Linked DNA regions of Homo sapiens. The protein of the gene in region 6 purifies or fractionates together with the protein of the main gene of each other region. This does not show direct contact. Each region holds a gene or a part of one and is shown on either strand. Other genes may lie near its edges.

What was found.
Region 1: the proteins of OR10H1 (region 6) and NDFIP1 purify together in Homo sapiens (affinity purification with mass spectrometry; one large-scale study listed by BioGRID and IntAct). This does not show direct contact.
Region 2: the proteins of OR10H1 (region 6) and NPC1 purify together in Homo sapiens (affinity purification with mass spectrometry; one large-scale study listed by BioGRID and IntAct). This does not show direct contact.
Region 3: the proteins of OR10H1 (region 6) and ANO6 purify together in Homo sapiens (affinity purification with mass spectrometry; one large-scale study listed by BioGRID and IntAct). This does not show direct contact.
Region 4: the proteins of OR10H1 (region 6) and LRP12 purify together in Homo sapiens (affinity purification with mass spectrometry; one large-scale study listed by BioGRID and IntAct). This does not show direct contact.
Region 5: the proteins of OR10H1 (region 6) and TSPAN3 purify together in Homo sapiens (affinity purification with mass spectrometry; one large-scale study listed by BioGRID and IntAct). This does not show direct contact.
Region 7: the proteins of OR10H1 (region 6) and LRRC8E purify together in Homo sapiens (affinity purification with mass spectrometry; one large-scale study listed by BioGRID and IntAct). This does not show direct contact.

What each region holds. Positions count from the first base shown.
Region 1 is NC_000005.10:142,129,279-142,132,778, forward strand, and holds part of NDFIP1 (NEDD4 family-interacting protein 1), read left to right. Parts: intron 1-2,529; coding exon 2,530-2,617; intron 2,618-2,933; coding exon 2,934-3,064; intron 3,065-3,500. UniProt on the Homo sapiens protein: Activates HECT domain-containing E3 ubiquitin-protein ligases, including NEDD4 and ITCH, and consequently modulates the stability of their targets. As a result, controls many cellular processes.
Region 2 is NC_000018.10:23,538,007-23,541,506, reverse strand, and holds part of NPC1 (NPC intracellular cholesterol transporter 1 precursor), read left to right. Parts: intron 1-73; coding exon 74-201; intron 202-298; coding exon 299-439; intron 440-969; coding exon 970-1,059; intron 1,060-1,505; coding exon 1,506-1,696; intron 1,697-2,036; coding exon 2,037-2,152; intron 2,153-2,835; coding exon 2,836-2,965; intron 2,966-3,500. UniProt on the Homo sapiens protein: Intracellular cholesterol transporter which acts in concert with NPC2 and plays an important role in the egress of cholesterol from the endosomal/lysosomal compartment.
Region 3 is NC_000012.12:45,348,595-45,352,094, forward strand, and holds part of ANO6 (anoctamin-6), read left to right. Parts: coding exon 1-37; intron 38-2,064; coding exon 2,065-2,180; intron 2,181-3,500. UniProt on the Homo sapiens protein: Small-conductance calcium-activated nonselective cation (SCAN) channel which acts as a regulator of phospholipid scrambling in platelets and osteoblasts.
Region 4 is NC_000008.11:104,579,259-104,582,758, reverse strand, and holds part of LRP12 (low-density lipoprotein receptor-related protein 12 isoform a precursor), read left to right. Parts: intron 1-3,500. UniProt on the Homo sapiens protein: Probable receptor, which may be involved in the internalization of lipophilic molecules and/or signal transduction. May act as a tumor suppressor.
Region 5 is NC_000015.10:77,054,110-77,057,609, reverse strand, and holds part of TSPAN3 (tetraspanin-3), read left to right. Parts: intron 1-1,354; coding exon 1,355-1,546; intron 1,547-1,746; coding exon 1,747-1,821; intron 1,822-3,330; coding exon 3,331-3,432; intron 3,433-3,500. UniProt on the Homo sapiens protein: Regulates the proliferation and migration of oligodendrocytes, a process essential for normal myelination and repair.
Region 6 is NC_000019.10:15,805,665-15,809,164, forward strand, and holds part of OR10H1 (olfactory receptor 10H1), read right to left. Parts: intron 3,178-3,500; 5' UTR 3,061-3,177; intron 2,385-3,060; 5' UTR 2,374-2,384; coding exon 1,417-2,373; 3' UTR 1-1,416. UniProt on the Homo sapiens protein: Odorant receptor.
Region 7 is NC_000019.10:7,895,010-7,898,509, forward strand, and holds part of LRRC8E (volume-regulated anion channel subunit LRRC8E), read left to right. Parts: exon of another isoform or gene 1-330; intron 331-589; 5' UTR 590-594; coding exon 595-732; intron 733-3,500. UniProt on the Homo sapiens protein: Non-essential component of the volume-regulated anion channel (VRAC, also named VSOAC channel), an anion channel required to maintain a constant cell volume in response to extracellular or intracellular osmotic changes.

The DNA.
Region 1 (3,500 bases), on a different chromosome or scaffold from region 6:
CAAATAATGTTAAAACCAGTATTTTAGGTGAACCATGGTCCCAAGAACTCTATTTAAGTAATTCCTAGTTCGGTGTCCCAGGAGCATTTGGCTTTACTGCACCTATTTTGGCCACATGTCTTTGTTTAAAAGGAAAAATTATCTTAGGTTATAATACAGCTATTTTGGGAGTACCTTAAGTTTAACATTAGATTACTAGGATTCGAAAAAATGTACCCAGATGGTAGATGCTGATGAGAATTTGACACAAGAATTCATTTGAAATTGAAGCTTTTGTAGTATTAGTCAGAAAAATTTATTGACATCTGGTTTTGAACAGCATAGTGAGTGGAGATTGAGATGATCAGTTAAAATTTAATGGATTGTGGCCGGGCACAATGGCTCACGCCTGTAATTCCAGCACTTTGGGAGGCTAAGGCAGGCATATCACCTGAGGTCGGGAGTTTGAGACGAGCCTGGCCCACGTCTACTAAAAATACAAAAATTAGCCAGGTCTGGTGGCATACGCCTGTAGTCCCAGCTACTTGGAGTCTGAGGCAACAGAATTGCTTGAACCTGGGAGGTGGAGGTTTCAGTGAGCCGAGATCCCACCATTGCTCTCCAGCCTGGGCAACAAAAGCGAAACTACATCTCAAAAAAAAAAAAAAAAAAAGAAAGAAAGAAAATTTAATGGATTATGGAGCTCTACTTCACATTAGTACACCTCGGTCTCTCTGTTTTTCTGTCTCAATTCAAGATAGAGTTCTTTGTAGCGGTATGGTTTAGAGGTGGTATGTATTTTACAAGTATGTCAGTTGGCTCTGTATATCCTGATGATACCGAAGCCAGGACCAGACCCCTACGTCAGTTATATCACTAAATATTCTGTTATTAATTTTCAGATTGGCTCCTAGTCCCAGCCAACTCATGTTTTAAATTAATATAGTTCATTGTCACACTGGACTGGAAAAACCAAATGAAATGTCTTTATTCTATGAAGATGACTTGTGTAGACTATACAGACTAGCAACAGCAGACACTTTCAGTGCGAGTTATTTTAAAAAATTGAAGATTTGACTGGCAGAAAAGTTGCTGAGATAGGGAAAAGGGATATCTATTGACAGATATATGTAGAATTAGGGAGAATTTTATGTTTTCATAAGTGTCTCAATTATTTAAGATTTAATTTGGTGTGCATGTGGAATATAATGGTAACATGGTTTGTCTGTGATTTGTCTTTTGTCTTAACAGATTATTTTTCTAACTTTAAAAAAGTATACATCACTTGAGGCCAGGAGTTTTAAACCAGTCTGGGCAACACAGGAAGACCCCATCTCTACAAAACATAAATTTTAAAAAAAGTTAGCCAGGGTCACAGTGTGCCATAATTGTGCCACTGCACTCCTGCCTGGACAACAAGAGTGAGATCCTGTCTCTCCAAAAAAAAAAAAGTATGCAAGTGATAAATATTCACTACAAAATATTTGAACATGCAGATACACAACAAAAAGGAAAAATTCCCCTGTACTCCTATTACCTAGAAATAACAGTGTTGAACTGTAAATGTCTCATTCTAGGCCTCCTTTCCATTATATGTCTGCCTTTTTAAAAAGGATTATATGATGCCTATTGTTTGGCAAGTTTAGCTTTTTTCATGTAATAATAGTACACTGTAAATATCTATTTGAGTAATGAAATTTAATTTTTTTTTTTTTAAAGACATGGTCTCTCTCATGCCCCAGGCTGGAGGGCAGTGGCACAATCTTAGCTCGCTGCAGCCACGACCTCCTGGGTTCAAGCCATCCTGCTGCCTCAGCCTCCTGAGTAGCTAGAACCACAGGTGCATGCCACCACTCCCGGGTAATTTTTGTATTTTTTGTAGAGACAGGGTTTGTTTTGCCATGTTGCCCAGGCTAGTCTTGAACTCCTAAACTCTCCTAATCTCAAGCGATCCCACCCACCTAGGCCTCCCAGAGTGCTAGGATTACAGGTGTGAGCCACCATGCCTGGCTGAAATTTAATGTATATTTTTTTTGACACAGAGTTTCACTCTGTTGCCCAGGCTGGAGTGCAGTGGCACCATCTCAGCTCACTGCAACCTCCGCCTCCCGGGTTAAAACGATTCTTGTGCCTCAGCCTCCTGAGCAGCTGGGACTATAGGAGTGTGCCACCATGCCTGGCTAATTTTTGTATTTTTAGTAGAGATTGGGTTTTGCCATGTTGGCCAGGATGGCAAAATTTAATTTTTAATGGCCGTTTAGTAGTCCTTTGTGTGATGTACTATAATTTATTTGTCTCCTATGATTGGAATTTAGGTTGTTTCTAATTTTTGCTGACACAACACTTATATGTACCCATTTTGCCTCTTTGAATATTTCCATAGAATAACTTCCTGGGAGTAGAATACTTTTCTTAAAGGATTTGTGCATTTCAAGGCTTTCAAAATACGTTGCCAAATAGCTTTCGAGAAAGGCTATTTATTTCAGTTTTTGGGTTCTTATCTTTCTAATTGGCTTTATGCTTACATTAAAATATGAAATTTTTATTTAGTTGCAGAATGAAGAAGAGTCTGGAGAACCTGAACAGGCTGCAGGTGATGCTCCTCCACCTTACAGCAGCATTTCTGCAGAGAGCGCAGGTAGGTAACAGGGCAAGGTGATCACGGAATCCTTAAAAACACTCTGTGCTTTGACATTACAGTTTAAAAAAAAAAAAGCTTCAGAAGCAGTTGGAAGAAAGGTTACAAAGCAAGTCTGGATTTTAAATAATTGAGAAGTGGATACATTTAAAAATCACCCCCAGTCTCTTACATTCATCTAAGAATGTCTTTTGGTTCAATTGTTATGTATGTACTCTTAAGGGAATGGCTGGGTTTTGTCTGCTAGAGTTAGTGGAACTCCTTTTATTTCAATTCAGCTAATCATCAAAAAATTGTGACTGTTAAAATTCTGCAGCATATTTTGACTACAAGGATGAGTCTGGGTTTCCAAAGCCCCCATCTTACAATGTAGCTACAACACTGCCCAGTTATGATGAAGCGGAGAGGACCAAGGCTGAAGCTACTATCCCTTTGGTTCCTGGGAGAGTGAGTATAATTTGCCATGTTACTTGATGGCTGCTCTGTGGGAATTAAGTTATTTTCATTATCCAATTTTGATTCGTTACTTATGATTGTATTGATTAGTGAAAGTAGAGCTAATTTTAAAAATCAGGTACATTTGCTTTTGGGATAATAAACTCATCTCTTCTTAAAAATGATGAGGTAAATTACTAGTCAGACCTGCTCATTTTTCCTTCATCTCTCCTATTACCACTACTTTTTCAAGTCTCCTGGGATGGCTGAAGTATCTTGAAGCAGAAGCACACTAATGTTTCCTTGATTCTGCACACTTAATATTTTGCTGTTGGGTGGATAGCTGCTAGGGAGGTCTAGGAAGAGAATAAATATATGCAAATTTGTAGAATTAAACTCATAAGAGGGATCTTCACATTGATTTAGATGAACTCCGTTCTTCCAGCAG
Region 2 (3,500 bases), on a different chromosome or scaffold from region 6:
ACATGAACATAAGACCTGCAGAGAGCCCCCGGCTGTAAACAGAAGTGACGCAGAGCCCTTCTCTCCCCGACAGGAGCATTGTCCGTGATGCCAGCCGTGCACACCTTCTCTCTCTTTGCGGGATTGGCAGTCTTCATTGACTTTCTTCTGCAGATTACCTGTTTCGTGAGTCTCTTGGGGTTAGACATTAAACGTCAAGAGGTAAGTTGGTGCCAGGATTATAGTCTATTTAATTTGAGTCTAGAATCTAGAGGAAGCAGCTAGCGGGTATAACCTTTGTTTCCCTCTGTCCCCTCAGAAAAATCGGCTAGACATCTTTTGCTGTGTCAGAGGTGCTGAAGATGGAACAAGCGTCCAGGCCTCAGAGAGCTGTTTGTTTCGCTTCTTCAAAAACTCCTATTCTCCACTTCTGCTAAAGGACTGGATGAGACCAATTGTGGTATGCGCTTATCTGTGGTTTTTCTCTTTCCTCTCACTGAAACAGATTATCACATGCCTTCTAAGAAGCCAGACAGCCTGGGAAGGAGATTCTTAAAGCTGTTAAAATGTATCTAAAAAAAAAGCAAAAGCAAATGTGGAACAGTAGATAAAATGTTTTTCCTGTGAGCTTTTATCAGTCCATATAAACAAGAGTTTTAAGTTTTTTATTTTGAAATAGTTTCAGATTCACAGAAAGTTGCAAAGAAACTTTTATTTTTCCTCTTAATAATGAGGAAATAGAAGCCAAGAGAGGTGAAGTGGTTTGCCCCAAGTCACTCAGCCCGTAAGTGGCAGAGTCAGGATTTGCACCCAGGAATTTGGACTCCTGGTGCTGTGGTCTCACCCACTGCCCTGTACTCCCTATTAGCCTGTCATTTAAGCTTTTCCATTTTAAAAAATCCTGCTTTTTGTGTGTGCTTAAGATTTTATTTCTGGTCGTAAGCTTATTTACTAAGCAGTCTCTGTCTTATGATTCATTTGTTGTTCCAGATAGCAATATTTGTGGGTGTTCTGTCATTCAGCATCGCAGTCCTGAACAAAGTAGATATTGGATTGGATCAGTCTCTTTCGATGCCAGATGTAAGATGACTTCCTTTTTTTTTTTTTTTTAACTTCTTTAGCTGATGATGAATACATTTTTCAAAACATGCACGTAGGTGTTTCAAGCAAGTGCCTGCTTCTAACTGCAAATGGTGACAGGGTTTCCAGGGTTAGGAGAACTGTCGCAGTGCACTGCTGGTGTGGGCTGTCTGGCATTCTGACTGAGCCCCTCTGGGCACAGCTGCAGAACACGAATAACTAGTCTTATGAGGTTACTTTATGAGATGCTCTCCTGATTGTGGGGCTAGCAGGAGGAGCACCCTGGGGCCCTGGGGGGAAGACTGGTGGTGTTAGGAATCATGAGTCCAGCTGGAGGCATCTCAGCCAGGAACCTCCTGGCACCCTCTTATTCTCCATGATCCTCGCCTTGCTTAGTTACTATCAGAGTGTTCACACTCTCTCCTATTCTTTTATCTTTCTTTCAGGACTCCTACATGGTGGATTATTTCAAATCCATCAGTCAGTACCTGCATGCGGGTCCGCCTGTGTACTTTGTCCTGGAGGAAGGGCACGACTACACTTCTTCCAAGGGGCAGAACATGGTGTGCGGCGGCATGGGCTGCAACAATGATTCCCTGGTGCAGCAGATATTTAACGCGGCGCAGCTGGACAACTAGTCAGTACCACCTTGTCTTGTACTTCAGAAGCAGCGGAGGAGGCTCTCAGCCAGGCAGTCAGCTCAGGCCTGAAATGTCTCACTGAAAATAGACTTTCTTGGAAAAGTTGTTTTTATGCAAAATGTATGTTAAATCTGGCTTTACCTTAAAAAACCTTTGAAAGGACTAATTTACCACCTAATACTTTGAAGGCTTTTTTCATTAAGTGCTCATGTAGTTTTTCTTTTGACTGTTAGCAGTATAAAACGTAGAAAAGGAAGTTAGGTTTTAAGAAAAAGTACTGAAACTAAAGACTTCCTCCCTGTGGAGCAGGTCAGTAACCCTGTCTGTCCTCTCTAGTACCCGAATAGGCTTCGCCCCCTCGTCCTGGATCGACGATTATTTCGACTGGGTGAAGCCACAGTCGTCTTGCTGTCGAGTGGACAATATCACTGACCAGTTCTGCAATGCTTCAGGTACCTTCTCCTTTACCAAATCTTTCCTGTTTTGCTGAAAAATTTTCAAATTATCATTTAAAAATCATTTGCATCGTGCCTCAGTTTATACCTATTTGTATATCAAAGCTGGGTCTCCCTGTGTCATCATTCCTTTCCTCAGTCATTCATTCTGAAATTGTCATGTTGTTCCTGGCTCAGACAGCCACCCTCGGGGCTGCAAGCTGAACAAGGTCCACATGTTCGGAGTGTGGTTTCCACATAAGGTTTCTCATCCTGTTCTAACTCCAGCGATTGCCTCTCAGGATTGGTATCTGGCCTTAGCTTCTCAGAGGAGGGCTTTTCTTTATCACTTTACCCTGTGGTTTTGTAGGAGCGTCGAGGTTGCCCTGGAATTTTCTTAATAAAAACATAGAAGCCCCGGGCTCTGACCAGTCAAGGCCATACTTGAAGGAGGAGATCTACTTCAGGGCAGAAAATGATGCATAGTATGCCTAAGATGAAAATGGTATTTCAGATTCATTAAACTGTGAAAGTGACATGTGGCTGAAGCTTTTAGATAAGGGGAAAGATTATCCCTCACTAGTAAGGAAAGTAATCGATAGAGAAGAAAGTAATGCCCCTCACTGTCAGTATTTTAAAATGTTTTACAAAAAATCTGGAGACCTATTCTTCTAACAGTCCTCCCTGCATGTCTCCGCCAGTGGTTGACCCTGCCTGCGTTCGCTGCAGGCCTCTGACTCCGGAAGGCAAACAGAGGCCTCAGGGGGGAGACTTCATGAGATTCCTGCCCATGTTCCTTTCGGATAACCCTAACCCCAAGTGTGGCAAAGGGTAAGTGCTGCTGCCATTGCAGATAAGCATCCACTGCAACTTTAATTTGCAGTAGAAAACTAGGAGAGGACTGGGCTAAGACAGTTGCATGGGAACGTCTCTTCTCCGCCCCACCCTGTCCTGGTCCTTTGGTGGAAGCAGGAAAACCGAAAACACCTTTTTAAGAAAATGCCTCATAGTGTTCAACTGATTCTGTCTTAGCGTGGGCATTCACATCTCATGCTCTCTCTGTGTCCTGGCCCCCTGGGCATGAGAATGAACGCAGATTCCTGTGCACATTCCAAGCGGGGCTGAGGGAGAGGACGGCCTGCTGGTAATCCAGGCCTGAAGGAACTTGGCCTGTTCACTTGTACTGATGGCAGCTGGGGCGTGATCTTAGCTTTAGTAACATTATCCCACATTAAGGTTGCGATTCTTTTAGCCTCGTCATGCTCCTTGCCAGCCCATCCATGTATAGGGTTATGGGCTATCTCACTCCCCCATCCAGCCAGGCAGCCAGTTACCCACGGAAGCCAGATATATGGCCCAAAAATAG
Region 3 (3,500 bases), on a different chromosome or scaffold from region 6:
CTCTGGGATCTACAAGGCAGCTTTCCCACTCCATGATGTAAGTTAAAAGGCAAAAATGAACTAAAAGGCCTTCTGTATACTCTGGTGTTGACAATAGCAAAGGGCTAACTTTCCTGACTGTAAGTTTCTTCCTCAGTAAAATGAAGGGAACATACTGCAAGATTACAAGCTCATTTAGGGTAAGAACTAGGTCTTTTGTTCACAGATGGATCCCAGTTATAAAGATACTCAGTTTTAAAGGAGCGAATGAATGAATGGACAGGACCTCTCTCACAGTTAATGTGTAAAGCAGTATAGATTAGCAGTTAATCTGTGTTAGCATTTCTGAGACCAAAATGCCTGCCCTGCCACTTTCTAGCTGGATGACCTTGTGAAAGTCATTTAGCCTTTCTTCCTCCATTTCCTCATCAATAAGCTGGGGATAAATTATTACCTACCTCCTAGAGTTGTTAAGAGGATTAAATTAATCCATTAAATTAATCCAAATGTTAGTCCCTAGCATATAATAAATACTATTATAAGTGTTAGCTGTTTTCATAATTACTAACAGATGTTATTATCAACCAGAAAAGATTAGTTCTTTGTCAGCAAAATACATGTTAGACCTTCTCATTTATCATTTTCTGCAACATAGACTTTTCTTCCTCATTTGGAATACGATTTTCAAACTGTCCCCTGGAATATCCCTGGGCTTTTAAAAAGGCATCTGTCAGGGTTGTTGTGACAATGGCAGTACCCCAGATGGTTGACATTTTTTTAAGGACTACATTCTGAGACCACAGCAACCCCTCAAATTCAAGAGTACTTCTCTAGCCGAGAACATCTCTCGTGAAATGAAATTTTTAAAATGTGACCACTGTAAATGCAGGGACATTATAACTAAAGCTGTTTAAACTCTGTCATTGAAATAAATTAAATACTATATTATATTGCATTATTACTTTGTTATATTCACTATCAATTTATCTGACTGTGTAAGACCAAAGAAAGTAAAGACTGAGATTGGTAATTGCTACTGTGTAGTACATGTATTTGTGGATAGAGACGATATTGAAATGTACTGAATAACATAATAAAACTAGGACACTAAACAGCAGCTTGATACACATGGAAAAGTAGAGAACAGGGAGCTGGGTGAGGTAAATACTGATCCTAAGAGACCCAATGTAGCCATCCAGCCTGAGAGTCCATGTGTTTTACTTTTGTGCCCCACTGAATTTAGCTAATTGCGAATAACAGGACATGAATTTTGAGGCCACTTGCAAATAGCTGTCACGAATATTAATTTGGGATGCCAGGGTTCTCTAACAGTTGACATTTGCTTTTGGCCATGTCTTTTCCACTAAAGCCTCTTCTAATTGCAGTGGTCCTGTATTCAGGCTAACAAATGGTCCCATGTGGTATTTGAGAGGGAGGTGTGTGAAGGTCAGGGCCTGTGCCCTGATTTGGCTGGGTGGTAATCTGGTTCTAGTGCCAGAAGAAGAAAAATGAGTCAGAAAAAAAGGCAACTGGATTTAAGCAGGAAGTTTTGTTTCTTGAATAAGCTAAGTGTGTAACATGATACCCAGCTTTATTGTTTGTTTTCTGTATGTTATCACAGAATAACTGCTGAACTGGGGGCAAAGAAGCCTAGGTTTTAGAATTGACCCTGCTGCTAACCAGCCAAGGCCTTGGTTTCCCCATTGTCCAAGGAGAGGGGTGGGTTATCACGTGTTCCTCTGGTGTGGTGATTTGGGCACTTGGGTGGCCCAATTTTTCATTGTGTAGGACTGCCCCACTTAAAGCATTTTAAGCATCTCTGGGGCCCTCACAGAGTCCCTGCAGTGCTCCCCAGGATTGTAACACCCAATCGTTCATCCCTGCCCACATTCATAAATGACCCCCAAGGAGGGTAGTACCATGCCTGGTTAAGAATCACTAAAAATTAGATGGTATTTCCACCCTTTCCAGAAGGTGAGGACCCCTTGTTCACAATTGACTATCAAGTATTTGTATCACATTTAAGAAGCAGATTTGTGAAAACACGATGATTATGGTGCTTACATGTTCCCTTCTGCGTCACAGTGCAAATTCCGCCGTCAGTCAGAGGATCCCAGCTGCCCTAATGAACGGTACCTTCTGTACAGAGAATGGGCTCATCCTCGAAGCATATACAAAAAGCAGCCCTTGGATCTTATCAGGTGAGGGGTTGTAGGGAGTACTCCAGGGGGAGGCACTCAGGGTGTTACCCCCACAGCATCTGAATGTGACAGTACTCATCAAGACTCTTGCCAGTGAAGGGAGCTGACCCAGAGTGCTGAGCTTCGTTGGCCAGGGTTTTTATTGAGGCTTAATTATGTGGGCATGATTAATTGAATCATTACCCATCTCCAGTATCATCCTCCCCCTGGAAGATGGCCAGTAATATGTGGCTCAAAGCTCCAGTTCTCCAATCACATGGTTGATCTTCTGGCATGGCCAGCCTCCACCCTGAGTCATCTCATTAGCACAAACTCTCTAGAGGTCCACCATGAGCCACTTCACTGGCATAAACTATCAGGCGTAGTCCTAGGGTCCCACTGTGAATAAAAAGGCACTCCTATCTCTCAGGAAGTTCCAAGGGTTTAGAGGTTACCCACCGCCCAGGAACTGGGATGCAGACCCACCAAATTCCATATTGCACAGAAGTAAATGTTAGATGTAGTTTCTATTGTATGGTAAGACATGTACATTTTCACTCTTTTCTTATGTCTGCCTCTAGGTTCTATTTCGTTGTATCTCACAAGATACAATGACTAGCTCAAGAGTTTTTCTTCCCAAGGTACCCTGTTGGTTTTCCTCCAGAAGCTTACGTTGTTTGGGCAGGGCTGAGGATTCTGGCTTGTGGGAGATAGACCAAGAACACCCAAACAAGCCAATAAAACATGAAAATAAATAAACAGAATTTCTAATGGAAGTGAAGAAAATAACAGAGCAATAGGATGGGAGGGCAGAGTGGGAAGTGAGTTGAGGGAGTTATCTTTGAGGAGGTGACTTTTAAGCTGAGATCGGATAGTGAAGAGGAGCCAGTGCTTTGAGGACTTGGCAGAAGTCCTTCTAGGAATAGGGGCAGCTTGTACAGTGGCCCTGAGATGCACACACATTTGGCAAGTTTGAGGAAACATCAGAGACCAGTGCTAGTGAGAAACAGAGCAAGACATGAAGTTAGAGGGGTGGCAGGAGCGCCGAAAAGAGTTTAGACTTTAATTGCAGTGAGAAGCAGTTGTAATATTTTAAATGTTTAAGTCATTGTATCCTATTCACGTTTTGCAGATAATGTGGAGAATGGATTATAAGGGGTACAGGGAGCAGGGAGACCACTAGGTAGGAGGCTGTTTGAGCCAGGCAGAAGACTGTGGGAGCAGATTTGGGATGTGTTTGGGGAGTCGGGTCGACAGGACTTGTTTATGGATTGGATGTGGAGAGTGACGAGGAGAGGAGAGTTAACTTCATGTCTGTCTGGAGCCACGTACCTGTTTTTT
Region 4 (3,500 bases), on a different chromosome or scaffold from region 6:
TATGAACACTATACAAGCACATATATTATGAATAGTTGTACAGCAGATGACAGGAAGAGATGGACTTAAATTACAAGGGGAGGAACCTTAAGAAGGGTTCTGTGGAGAACTCAGTTCTGAGGGCAGTCATTTTGTCAATGAAATAAGTATAGAACATAACTTTTTACAATGTTTTAAGTGTATTTCAGGCAAGAAGCAAAGGGTGGAGCAAAAGCTGGATTTCCAATACCTTTTTGCCAAAGTTAAATGCTTTCTGCTAAGCTATCAATAAAGATTGCTTTAGAAATCAGATTGTCTTTGGTAGAGGCAAGAATGTATTAAAAGATTGGTGAATTTCAGAGCAGATTTGGAAAAATTGAGCTTTTATCTTTTTTTTTTATTGTGTAGCTTTACAGAAGATATAACTTTAGTAGGTCCCAAAACTTCAAAGTAAATAAAACTGACAAAAGAGTTTTCTAGTTTTCCTCTTAAATAGTTAATAACTCATTTACTTGCTGGTATCAGTTTGGTGAAGATGTGAAATTGTTTTATGCTCATGTTTTGTCATTGAGTGAGACTAACTTGATACCTACCTTTAATTCACTTACATTTCAGTTTTTAGAGAAATTAAAAATGATGCCAATCTTTTAATATTAGGATTAAATGGAGCACAATAGGATGTTTAGTAGTTGGAATTTACTTTTTCAAATATAAGTGAGTAAACCTTTCATAATCTGACTTAATTTCATTAATAGTTAAGGCATCTTTTTACATATATTGGAGAAAACATAAGAATAATCTTTGTATCTGATATATTTTGAAGTAGAATTGTTTCGTGAAATTATTATTGCTTGTGAAAGTTTTGCTAAGAGAATACAGAACACCTATACAAAAAATGCCATGATTAATTCTCAAAATCATTGTGTGAGGTAGGTATTATTAGAAGAAACTGAAGCTTTGAGAATAGTAGTTTTGCCTAAGGTTCATGTCTGTCTACTGCTGTGCTCTTCGTGTAGAGGCCCATTATTTTTTTTTTGTCTACATTATTGTAACAGCCACCAACTAGTCTTAGCTCTAGTCTTGTCCTGATTGAATCATATCACACTTAGCAGTAGCCAGAGTGACTTATCTAAAGTACAGATCTGATAATGTAACTTTCTTGCTTAAAACCCAACAGCAGTTCCCTGTTCTTAAAATATAAATTAAACTCAGCAGAGCTTTCATGATCTGGCTAGTTTTTTTTTTTTCACTTTTAAGTTCAGGAGTACATGTGCAGGTTTGTTATATAAGTAAACTTGTGTCATGGGGGTTTGTTGTACACAATTATTACATGGGGGTTTGTTGTACATAATTATTAATCTGTTTGTTGTACAGATTATTTCATCACCTAGTGATATGTTACATCATATCTAGTGATATCTGTACATCATATCGTATATAGTACCCAGTAGTTATTTTTTCTGATCCTCTCCTTTGTCCCACCCGCCACCTTCTGACAGGCCCCAGTATGTGTTGTTCCCCTTCCTCTATGTGTCCATGTGTTCTCATCATTTAGCTCCCACTTATAAGTGAGAACATGCAGCATTTGGTTTTCTGTTCCTGCATTTGTTTGCTAAGGATAATGGCCCCCACCTCCATCCAAGTTCCTGTAAAGGACATGTTCTTGTTCTTTTTTATGACTACATAGTATTCTATGGTATATGTGTACCACGTTTTCTTTATCCAGTCTGTCATTGATGGGCATTTAGGTTAATTCCATGTCTTTGTTATTGTGAATCAGTGCTACAAGGAACATAACACATGCATGTGTCTTTATAATAGAACAATTTATATTCCTTTGGGTGTATTCCCAGTAATGGGATTGCTGGGTCAATGATATTTCTGTTTTTAGGTCTTTGAGGAGTCGCCACGTTGTCTTCCACAATGATTGAACTAATTACACTTCTCCCAACAGTGTACAAGCATTCCTTTTTCACCACAACCTCGCAAGCATTTGTTATTTTTTTGACCTTTTAATAATTAGCCATTCTGACTGGTGTGAGATGGTATCTCATTGTGGTTTTGATTTGCATTTCTCTGATTGGTGATGTTGAGCTATATTTCATATGATTGTTGGCTGTATGTATGTCTTTTTTTGAAAAGTGTTCATGTCCTTTACCCAGTTTTCAATGGGTTTTTTTCTTGTAAATGTGTTTTAAGTTCTTTATAGATTTAGATTAATTTTTTGTTTGTTTGTTTTGTTTTTTTTTTGAAACGGAGTCTTGCTCTGTCGCCCAGGCTGGAGTGCAGTGGCACAATCTTGGCTCTCTGCAAGCCCCGCCTCGCGGGTTCATGCCATTCTCCTGCCTCAGCCTCCCGAGTAGCTGGGACTACAAGCACCCACCACCATGCCCGGCTAATTTTTTTTTTTTTTTTTTTTTTATTTTTAGTAGAGACAGGGTTTCACTGTGTTAGTCCTGATGGTCTCAATCTCCTGACCTCGTGATCCACCTGCCTGGGCCTCCCAAAGTGCTGGGATTACAGGCGTGAGCCACCGCACCCAGCCTAGATTAGTTCTTAATAGATGCTGGATATTTTGCAAATTATGAATCTTTGTCAGATGCGTAGTTTGCAAAAATTTTCTCCCATTCTGTAGGTAGCCTATTCACTCTGTTGACCGTTTCCTTTGCTGGACAGAAGCTCGTCAGTTTAATTAGATTCCATTTGTCAATTTTTGCATTTGTTGCAATTGCTTTTGGCATCTTTATCCTGAGATCTTTGCCTATTTTTGTGTCTAGAATGGTATTGCCTAGCTTGTCTTCCAGGGTTTTTATAGTTTTGGGTTTTATATTTAAGTCTTCAATCCGTCTTGAGTTAATTTTTGTATATGGTGTAAGGAGGGGTCCAGTTTCAGTCCTCTGCATATGACTAGCCGGTTACCCCAGCACCATTTATTGAATAAGGAATCCTTTTCCTATGGCTCATTTTTGTCAAGTTTGTTGAAGATCAGTTAGTTGTAGATGTGCTGCCTTATTTCTGGGTTCTCTATTGTGTTCCATTGGTCTATGTGTCTGTTTTTGTACGAGTACCATGCAGTTTTGGTTACTGTAGACCTGTAGTGTAGTTTGAAGTTGGGTAGCATGATTTCTTCAGCTTTCTTCTGTTTGCTTAGGATTACCTCTGCTATTTGGGCTCTTTTTTGGTTCTATATGAATTTTAAAATAGTTTCTTCTAGTTCTGTGAAGAATGTCAATGGTCATTTAATAGGAATAGCATTGAATCTGTAAATTGGTTTGGGCAGTATGGCCATTTTAACAGTATTGATTCTTCTTACCCATAAACATAGAATGTTTTTTCATTTGTTTGTGTCATTTCTGATTTCTGTAAGCGTAGTTTTATAGTTCTCCTTCTAGAGATCTTTCACCTCCCTGGTTAGCTGTGTTCCTGGGTATTTTATTCTTTTTATGGCAGTTGTGAATGGAATTACATTCCTGATTTGGCTTCAGCTTGACTGTTGTTGGTGTATAGGAATGTTAGTGATA
Region 5 (3,500 bases), on a different chromosome or scaffold from region 6:
TTAAAAATTGCCTTCATTATTCTAGTTGTCTTCTCACTTTAAAAAGTTCATGTTACATTTTAAAAAATCAAATTACTTTCCCAAATTTACATAAATGGAGTCTTTTTCTTCCTCATCTGACAGTGATCCTAATGGCCTAGTGTAAAAAAATATACTGATGATCCCCAAGCTTACTGAATTTCATAAACTTAAATGATCTGGGTTTTCAGGTTCAGAGAAGTTAATGATATTTCCAGTATCACTGTGGCAGCTGTTTCTAGTTTGAAGATGATTTATATGTTAAATTTTAAAGGATGATGAAATACTTCTTGTGAAAGTTTCAAAGTACTCTACAAATGATAACTCATTGTTATCCAAGTGATAACCAAATGTTTTAACACTTACTCTGACACTGCATTTGCTTGTTTGTATATGAGCCAGTGGCATTGGGCTGTCAGCACAGAGCTGGTACCCAAAGATAGCAAAATTGACAATAGCGGAGAAAGTAAGACTCTGCAGCTGGAGAATGATGCCTGGAGCAGCAGCTGAAATAAGACACACCTATCACTTGTCTTTGTGTGTTCACTTTCCCTTTAGGTCTTTAATACCTTGTTACTCAGAGTGCGCTCCAAGAAGAAGCTGCACCAGCATCACCTGGGAACTTGTTAGAAATGCAGACTCTCAGGCTCCTCCTCAGACCTCCTGAATCAATCTGCTTGTTATTCAGATCCTCAGGCAATTCCTATTCACTTCAAAGTTTGAGAACCACCATTCTAAAGAATTGATAGAGGACTTGCAGTGTTCTTTAATGACTGAGCCCTCTAGCTTTGCCATTTCACTGTCTCTAGGACAGCAAGATTTTTGGAAGTGGGGTGGGTATCATGCTTACTAGTTGGTGTATTTTCTTTTCCTTGAGGTGGGGTAGATAGAGATTAGAAGTGTAGATTCTGGAGTCAGATTGCCTGAGTTCAAATCCAAGCTCTGTCATTTCTACCAAATTTCCCCACTTATTGAGGGCAACTGTAGTGAGCAAAGATCCCCCTACCACCATACTGATCCGTATTGGATGTGGAATTGAGCTACAGTAAGCCTTTAGGGATGTGTAGGTGTGTGTCATCATCATTGTTATTATTTGGTTATGGTTTCTTGGTCCTAGCTGAACCATCAATTCGTGAAAAGTAGGTGAAGTGTGGATAACTTTTTAATTTTATCTAGTATAGAAATGCTCTTAACAAGGAATCATAGAATTTTCAGCTTTACTGAAAAAAGTCTATAACAGTTACGGTAACTCTCATTAAATTATACCATACTAAGCAATAATAGGAAATTTTTACCAGCAGTGCTTAGAGACCAGTACTGACTTTGTTTTCTACAGGGGGCAGCTGGCATTTTATGCTATGTGGGAGCCTATGTCTTCATCACTTATGATGACTATGACCACTTCTTTGAAGATGTGTACACGCTCATCCCTGCTGTAGTGATCATAGCTGTAGGAGCCCTGCTTTTCATCATTGGGCTAATTGGCTGCTGTGCCACAATCCGGGAAAGTCGCTGTGGACTTGCCACGGTAAGATGTGTTGTGAGAACATGCAGGAGTATTTAGTCTATGCTACTCTCCTTGAACATGAGACTCCTTGGCTCTTATAGTTGGAACAGAGTTAACATTTAAACTTCTAGCAATTATCTCTGATAACTTTTTTTAAATCAAGAGTGTATTTAAAGTTATTTTTTCATTTGTATATAATTTTAAACCATGTTTTCTTACAGTTTGTCATCATCCTGCTCTTGGTTTTTGTCACAGAAGTTGTTGTAGTGGTTTTGGGATATGTTTACAGAGCAAAGGTATGTTGTCTACTGTAATTCACATAATGCCTTAAAAGGTGGTTTAAGTGTTTCAAGTAAAATAGAACACATTCATTTTATCAGAGTAAACATTTTCTTTTGCCTTACTTGTTTAATCTGTATTTCAAATATCTAAAGTTAATTGGCAAATATTTACATGTCAAGACTCCTTACCTCATTTAATATAGCAGAGTGTTATATATGTATTGTTCTTGATTATAGGTATTTATAGCTGCAAATGAATAATTAGCTGAGAAGTTTGTTCAGATTTCCTCAGCACACAGATTGCCTATATGAGGGGAGGCATAATTTTCTGATTTCTGCTTTAGAAGAACCAAACTCAGAATTGCGTTTTCCATTGTCTCTTTAAAAAATGCTTTGGTCCTAAACATAGAAAAAGGTGTTGTGAGTTGTGATCCCACCTTCCACCCCTGTCCTGAGGAACAAGGGGTCCTGCCAACTTAGAACACCAAGGCAGCTGGTGCCAGCACTCCTTTCTTGCCCTTCATTCTTTTTAATCATTTCACCGTTCCTTCCTTTCTATTTTGCCTGATTTTGCTGTCTACCTGTAGTACTACTTAAGGCTAAACAGGCTGCTTTAAATTAATTAATATGGGTATAATTTTAGAGGCATGGTAAAGACATAATAGACTCATTCTCATTATAACTTAATGGTTTTGAGTCAAGGGCATAATATGCCAAGTTAATTTTCAGATCATTGATACGTAAGGTACTGTAAAGCTGTGCTAAAAAAAAAATGCAATGGATTATGTCCCTACCTATGATCTGGTTATCAATTTTATGGACTTATGATATTACTGTTGTAATTACCAGATAAGTCCAGTCCTCCGAGGGGTAAGGAGGATCTGGTACAAGCAAACTTTACTAAGTGATACTTGCTTGCCATTTTAGTAATTGGCAGCAATAAGCTATGAAGCTTGTTTCCTGTCTCCTTTTTGCAATACATTGAACAGTAGCTTTTTCATAAAGTGCCATTTCTAAGGACTGATTTTTTTAAACCTGCCGATTACTTTTGCACATTTAGCCAACTCTAAACGTTGAATAAATAAAATGGAAATAATGTTGGCATTTGTCCTAAAAGTATCTTACAGGAGCTTCAGAGTTACTTTGTTTTACCTCCTTTAGGAAAGGAAAATGAGTAACTTATTTGTAAAAGGAAGGCATCCATTTATAATTTAGGACATCTATCCCAAGCCTCAACTTTTCTCCCTTTTGAATACATTGTTAGCCTGCCATTTTGCACACAATCTTCTCTTTGAATGCTTGAATGTATGTGGTATATGTCTGAATTTTTACCTGTCACTTTTCTCCCTCCTGCCTTCATCTATATCTATATGAAGATGAAGGCAGGAAGGGAGAAAACTTTACAGGAAATTCATAGATATCTGGCAACTTGCAAACATTTCATTTAAGTATTTTAGTAGGAGCCTTGACTAATGTTACTTTTACTAGTATTTTTGAGGGACTGAATTCTTTGTTCTGATTCAGGTGGAAAATGAGGTTGATCGCAGCATTCAGAAAGTGTATAAGACCTACAATGGAACCAACCCTGATGCTGCTAGCCGGGCTATTGATTATGTACAGAGACAGGTGAGCTTTCTTGAGGCAGATTTGTTTTTGAGGACCAATCACGATTGGGTCAACATTAAACTAACTGC
Region 6 (3,500 bases):
CTTGAACTCCTGACCTCAGGGGATCCACCCACCTTGGCCTCCCAAAGTGCTGGGATTACAGGCATGAGCCACTGCGCCTGGCCATGAGATAAACTCATCCTGGGGTCTACACTCAATGTCCAGATTCAACAGAGAGCTCCTGGCTGGCCCATGAGCCGTGTCAACTTCTAACACAGCATTCGGTATCTCACAGTGTGACTTTTTTCCTTGATCCAACCATGAAGACATCTCAGTCTCTCCACAACTATTCAAGACTCACACTTGAAATTCTAAGGTTTCCTTGATGTTTAAAGAGAGTCTGTTTATTGCTATTTCTAACTTCTATTGCATAGATCTGTGCAATGCTGAAATTTAGGGTACTTTTCTCTCCTCTGCTATAATCTGGAGTAGCCTTACAAAATCTGAGTTGTAGCTACCTGGTGCGGCACTCATAGAGAGTGGGGCATGAAATCTTCCCTCTCTCTTTGCATTGCTGGTTTGCATTATTGGGGGTATTAGATGACCCTGGCTTTTGGCAAGAGGAGTCTAGATGGAGGTTTGGTGCTAACTGACACAGTTTCTTGCAGCAGATAGAAATAATCAAACCTGGTTTTCTCTGTGTTAGTATCTCACACACACTTCCACTCCAAATACATCCCTGATGCTGATTAACCTTTGTGTTTATAATTGTATGTCGTCTACAAGGTCCCTTGTAAACCTTAAAGCATGACAAATAGAGGTTACTATATGTTCATGGATTGTCTTTCTTTTAGGGGGGAAGGGATAGGGTCTCACTCTGTCATCCATGCTAGACTGCAGTGGCACAGTCATAGTTCACTGTAAGCTCAAACTTCTGGACTTAGGCAGTAATCCCAGTTCAGTCTCCCAGGTAGCTGGGACTACAGGCATGTACCACCATGCCAAGCTATTTTTTTCTAAGTTTTTGTAGATATGCAGTCTTGCTATGTTGTCAAGTCTAGTCTTGAACTCCTGGCCTCAAGCAATCCTCCTGCCTTGGCATCCCAAGGTGCTGGAATTATAAGTGTGAGCCACAGTGCTTGGCTGGAACGTAATTTTCTTTTTTTCTTTCTTTCTTTCTTCTTTGAGACAGTCTCACTCTGTCGCCCAGGCTGGAGTGCAGTGGTGTGATCTCAGCTCACTGCAACCTCCACCTACCGGGTCAAGCGATTCTTATGCCTCAGCCTCCCAAGTAGCTAGGGTTACAGGCATGTGCCAACATGCCTGGCTAATTTTTGTATTTTTAGTAGAGATGGGGTTTCGCCATGTTAGCCATGCTGGTCTCAAACTCCTGACCTCAGGTGATCCGCCTGCCTCGGCCTCCCAAAGTGCTGGGATTACAGGCATGAGTCACCACGGAACGTAATTTTTAACAATAGCCTTCGGTAATCCAATTTAGTTGTTCCCAGTGAATTTCTCCTACATCATTACATTTTTTTCTGGGTAGAGTTTACTGAAGAAGGTCTTCTTCATGGCGACCTTCAGCTCCTTGTTCCTGAGGCTGAAGATGATGGGGCTGAGGAAGGGTGTGAGGACCGTGTAGGTGATGCCCATCAAGGTGTCTCCTTCCAGAGACTGGGGACTTTTGGGCTTCAGGTAAATGACGGAGGCAAAGCCATAGTGCACGACCACCACAGTGAGGTGAGAGGCACAGGTGGAGAAGGCCTTGTTCCGACCTTCAGCAGAAGGGATCTTCAAGATGGCGGCCACGATGAAGGCATAGGAGAGGAGGATGAGGAGAAAACAGCCCAGCAGGGCCGTGATACACACCAAGCCCACGCCTTTGGCCACCACCAGCACATCGTCTCCACAGGCCAACTTCAACAGAGGTGGCACATGGCAAGCAAAATGGTGGATCTCCTTGTGTCCACAGAAGGCGAGGTGGAAAATGGCCGAGGTCACCACCATCCCCATGACCAAGCCACCAGCCCAGGAGCAGCCCACCAGGCAGGCGCAGCCCCGCGGGCTCATGAGCACGTTGTAGCGCAGGGGGTGGCAGATGGCCACGTAGCGGTCGTAGCCCATGACGGTGAGCAGGAAGGAGTGGGTGAAGCCGAAGCTGAAGGAGAAGAACATCTGACTGGCACAGGCCAGGAAGGCGATGGAGCGCTGGGTGGACAGCAGGTCGGCCAGCATGCGCGGGATGATGGCCACGGTGTAGAGGATCTCGGAGACGGAGAGGGCGCACAGGAAGAGGTACATGGGCGTGTGGAGGCTGCGCTCGCTCCAGACGGTGGCCATGATGAGCAGGTTGCCCAGCAGCGTGAACAGGTACATCAGCAGGAACAGCAGGAAGAGCATCAGCTGGAGGTGGGGGAAGACAGAGAAGCCGACGAGGATGAATTGGGTCACTGTGGAGTGATTGGCTCTCTGCATGGAGGCTGTGCCTGGGGTGAGATGTGACAGGGAGATGTCAGTTACTGCATGAAGAAAAGTTCTCAGCCTTCCCCATACCTGGATTTGCCCAAGGGACTGCTCTTGATAAATGGTTTGGTTCCATTCCCACTCTGTACCTCCTATAATTTAATACTCTCGTCAACCTAGTGAGAACGGTACTATTTTTTCAACCCCCTTTTGAAGTACCTTGAGCATAGTCATTGAGAATATTGAAATGTAGAGCTTGCTCAAGGCCAAGCTGTTGAAACGGTAGATCAGAGACTGGAACCCATAGCTGGGCTGGCTCTAAAACCTGTACCCTTCACTATTTCTCTATGTTGCCCCCTGCCCCCAAACGAAAATGCTCCAGGCTGGCATGGTGGTTCACATCTGTAATCCCAGCACTTTGGAGGCTAAGGGGGAAGGACGGCTTGAGCCCAAGAGTTTGAGGTTGCAGCAAGCTATGATGGCACCACTGTACTCCAGCCTGGGTGACAGAGCTAGACTCTATCTCTTAAAGAAAGAAGAAAATGGCCGGGCACGGTGGCTCACGCCTATAATCCCAACACTTTGGGAGGCTGAGGCAGGCGGATCACGAGGTCAAGAGATGGAGGCCAGCCTGGCCAAAATGGTGAAACCCCATCTCTACTAAAAATATAAAAATTAGTCGGGCATGGTGGCACGCACCTGTAGTCCCAGCTCTTCGGGAGGCAGAGACAGGAGAATCTCTTGAACCTGGGAGGCGGAGGTTGCAGTAAGCCGAGATGGCGCCACTGGACTCCACCCTGGCGACAGAGCGAGTCTCTGTCTCAAAAAAAAAAAAAATAAATAAATAAAAAGAAGAAGAAGAAAAACATATTCCTTTGCTGGAACTTCCATTCATTCCTTCTCTGCCCTCCTACTCCCTTCTGATAAATCACGTTCATCCCCCAGCTCCAGGTATCATGAGACGTTCCCACCCATGGCTGCAACTCCTTGGAACAGGGCGCGTCTCTAAATCTGAACCAACCAGACTTCCTCTGGGGTTATCCATGTAGGAAAGCAGAGGCAGGAGACTGTGTTGCTCTAAGGAAGGAGCCAGAAATCATGCTTTGGTTGTTTTCCAGCTCCCATGAGGTATGCCTCTA
Region 7 (3,500 bases), 7.9 Mb from region 6:
AGTCCCTGCCCCTGGGGCCCTAGTAACCAGAGCCAGGCTCCAGCCGGCTTTTCCGGTTAGAGGTTGGAGGTGGTGCCCAGAGTGCCCCTGGAGGGGGTGGAGGGGCCTACGCCCCGGAAGTCCTGAGCCTTGGAACGCTTTCAGGCCTGGTGGCGGTGGGAGCCGGGGCTGGCCCAGACGCTGAGTGTCTGCAGTCAGGGAGCATCGAGGCAGATGTTTTCAGGCCTTGGTGTCAGGGGTGGGAGAGGGATGCCTCGTTTTGGGGAGGGGGCCACCCGAGGAGGCTGGAGGGCGGCGGCCCTGTGGACTATCCCTCATGTGCTCTTCGAGGTCAGACAAGTCAGATCAGGTGCAGGGGTGCCCAGAGGGGAACAGTGGCCGCTTGGTTCTGGGCAGGTGGTGACGTCTGCATGGAGGGTGACTAAGGCCAGGCTAAGAGGGAAGTGGGGGCACACACTTTGGTGGTTTGGACAAGTTTGGGCAGGGAGGGTCACAGGCCTGCCTGTGTCCGGCTCCTCGGAGGACCCCCTGCAGAGCCTCCCATCCTGAGGGTCTCTCTCTACACCCCCCGTCTCGTCCCGTCCCACAGGCAGCATGATCCCAGTGGCCGAGTTCAAGCAGTTCACGGAACAGCAGCCTGCGTTCAAGGTGCTCAAACCCTGGTGGGACGTGCTGGCCGAGTACCTCACCGTGGCCATGCTCATGATTGGGGTCTTTGGCTGCACCCTCCAGGTGAGGCCCTCCCCTGGCAAGGGGGTGTGACCAGAGGGGCGGGGCAGGTGTCTGGGGAAGTCGGGAAGCCTTCTCATCACCCAAGAAAGAGAGGAAACTGAAGACAGAGCCCCACTCAAAGGCCAATCCAGACCCCTTATCTTCCTTACCTCCATAGCCAGGAGCACCGGAGTCCCCACATTGCTATGCCATTCCATATCTTTTTTTCTTTTTTGAGACGGAGTCTCACTCTGTCACCCAGGCTAGAGTACAGTGGCATGATCTCAGCTCCCTGCAACATCTGCCTCCCGGGTACAAGCGGTTCTCCTGCCTCAGCCTCCTGAGTAGCTGGGATTACAGGCGCCCACCACCACGCCTGGCTAATTTTGGTAGTTTTTTAGTAGAGATGGGGTTTCACCATGTTAGCCAGGCTGGTCTCGAACTCCTGACCTCAAGTGACCTGCCTGCCTGGGCCTCCCAAAGTGTTGGGATTACAGGCCTGAGGCACTGCACCTGACCCTTTCTTTTTTTTTCTTTTTTTTTTTTTTCTTTTTGGCTAAAAAGAGACAGGGGCCGGGCATGGTGGCTCACACCTGTAATCCCAGCACTTTGGGAGGCCAAGGTGGGAGTATCACTTAAGGCCAGAAGTTTGAGACCAGCCTGGCCAACACGGTGAAAACCCGTCCTTACTAAAGACACAAATATTAGCCAGGCATGGTGGTGGACACCTGTAATCCCAGCTACTTGGAAGGCTGAGGCAGGAAAATTGCTTGAACCTGGGAGGTGGAGGTTGCAGTGAGCCGAGATCATGCCACTGCACTCCAGCCTGGGTGACAGAACGAGACTCCATCTTAAAAAAAATAAAATAAAATAATTGAAAATTAAAATAAAGAAACACGGTCTCATTCTGTCATCCAGGTTGGAGTGCAGTGGCATGATCACAGCTCACTGCAGCCTTGAACTCCTGGACTCAAGTGATCTTCCCGCCTCAGCCTCCAGAGTAGCTGGGATTACAGGCACACACCACCACGTCCAGCTAATTTTTAAATTTCTTGTTGACACAGGGGTCTTGCTATGTTGCCCAGGCTTGTCTCGGACTCCGGGCCTCAAGCCATCCTCCCACCTCGGCCTCCCAAAGTGCTGGGATTACAGGTGTGAGCCACTGTGTCCAGCCCCATATTTTCACAATGCTCAGTTTTATCCCTAGAATCTGGAAAGGACTGCAGTTGCTATATGAGTTTGTTACTTCTGTTGTAACAAAGTAGCAGGGATTGAGTGGCTTAAATAACCAGAAATGTTTCCTCTTCTGGGTCTGGTTCTGGAGGCCAGAAGTCTGAGATCAAGGCGTCAGTTGTCAGTGAGGGAGAATCTTCCAAGCTTCCCTCCTAGATTTTTGCAGCTCCAAGAGTTCCTTGGCTTGTAGATGACATTCTCCCAGTATTTTTCTTTTTCTTTTTCTTTTTTTTTTAGACAGAGTCTCCCTCTGTCGCCCAGGCTGGCATGCAGTGGTGCGATCTCGGCTCACTGCAACCTCCGCCTCCCGGGTTCCAACAATTCTCCTGGCTTAGCCTCCCAAGTAGCTGGGATTACAGGCGTGTGCCACCACGCCCGGCTAATATTTTTTTGTATTTTTAGTAGAGACGTGGTTTCAGTATGTTGGCCAGGCTGGTCTTGAACTCCTGACCTCGTGATCAGGATCAGCCTGCCTCTGTCTCCCAAAGTGCTGGGATTACAGGCATGAGCCACTGCGCCTGGTCGAGACAGTTTTTTTTTTTTTTTTTTAAGCAAGCTCTGTCACCTAGGCTGGAGTGCAGTGGCGCAATAATAGCTCACTGTAACCTTGTACTCCTGGCCTCAAGCAATCCTCCTCTACCACCCCCGCTTGGCCCCCCCTCCCACTGCCTCCCAAATCACTGGGATTACAAGCCTGAGCCACCGCACCCAGCCTCTCCCTGTATCCTCACGTCATCTTCTGTCTTTGTGTCTGTCTCTGTGTCTATGTTTCCCCTTTCTCTAAGGCGCAGTCATACTGGGCCCACCCTACTGGCTTTGTCTTGACTACCTCTGCAAAGACCCTATTACCAAACAGGAGCCGCCTGACCCAGCTCAAATAATACCACATTCTAAGGATTCGGAGTTGGGACTTCAACATCTTTTGTGGGGACACGATTCAACCCAGCTCCTTTTCTCAGACAAAGACCAGTGCTTTGTCAGTTGTGGTGGCTCATTCCTGTAATCCCAGCACTTTGGGAAGCTGAGGCAGGGGATCACTTGAGGCCAGGAGTTCGAGAGCAGCCTGGCCAACATGGTGAAACCCCATCTCTACTAAAAATACAAAAATTAGCTAGGCGTGGTAGTGCGTGCTTGTAGCCCCGGCTACTCAGCAGGCTGAGGCAGGAGAATTGCTTGAACCAGGAGGGGAAGGTTGCAATGAGCCAAGATTGCACCACTGCACACAGCCTGACAGAGCGAGACTCTTGTCTCAAAAAAAAAAACCAAAAAAAAAAAAAACAGTGCTTAGAGGTTTAGCAAAACTCTTCCAAAATCACAGCTGGCTGGCAACAGTCAGAGATGGGGGGTGCGGGGGGTCTCCCACCTTCAGCCTGCTTTTTCCCCATCCCCCTCATTTTCTCTCTTTTTTAAATTAATTTATTTTTGAGACAGAGGCTCACTCTGTCACCCAGGCTGGAGTACAATGGCGCGATCTCGGCTCACTGCAACCTCCATCTTCCGGGTTCAAGCGATTCTCCTGCCTCAGCCTCCCGAGTAGCTGGGATTACAGGTGCCCA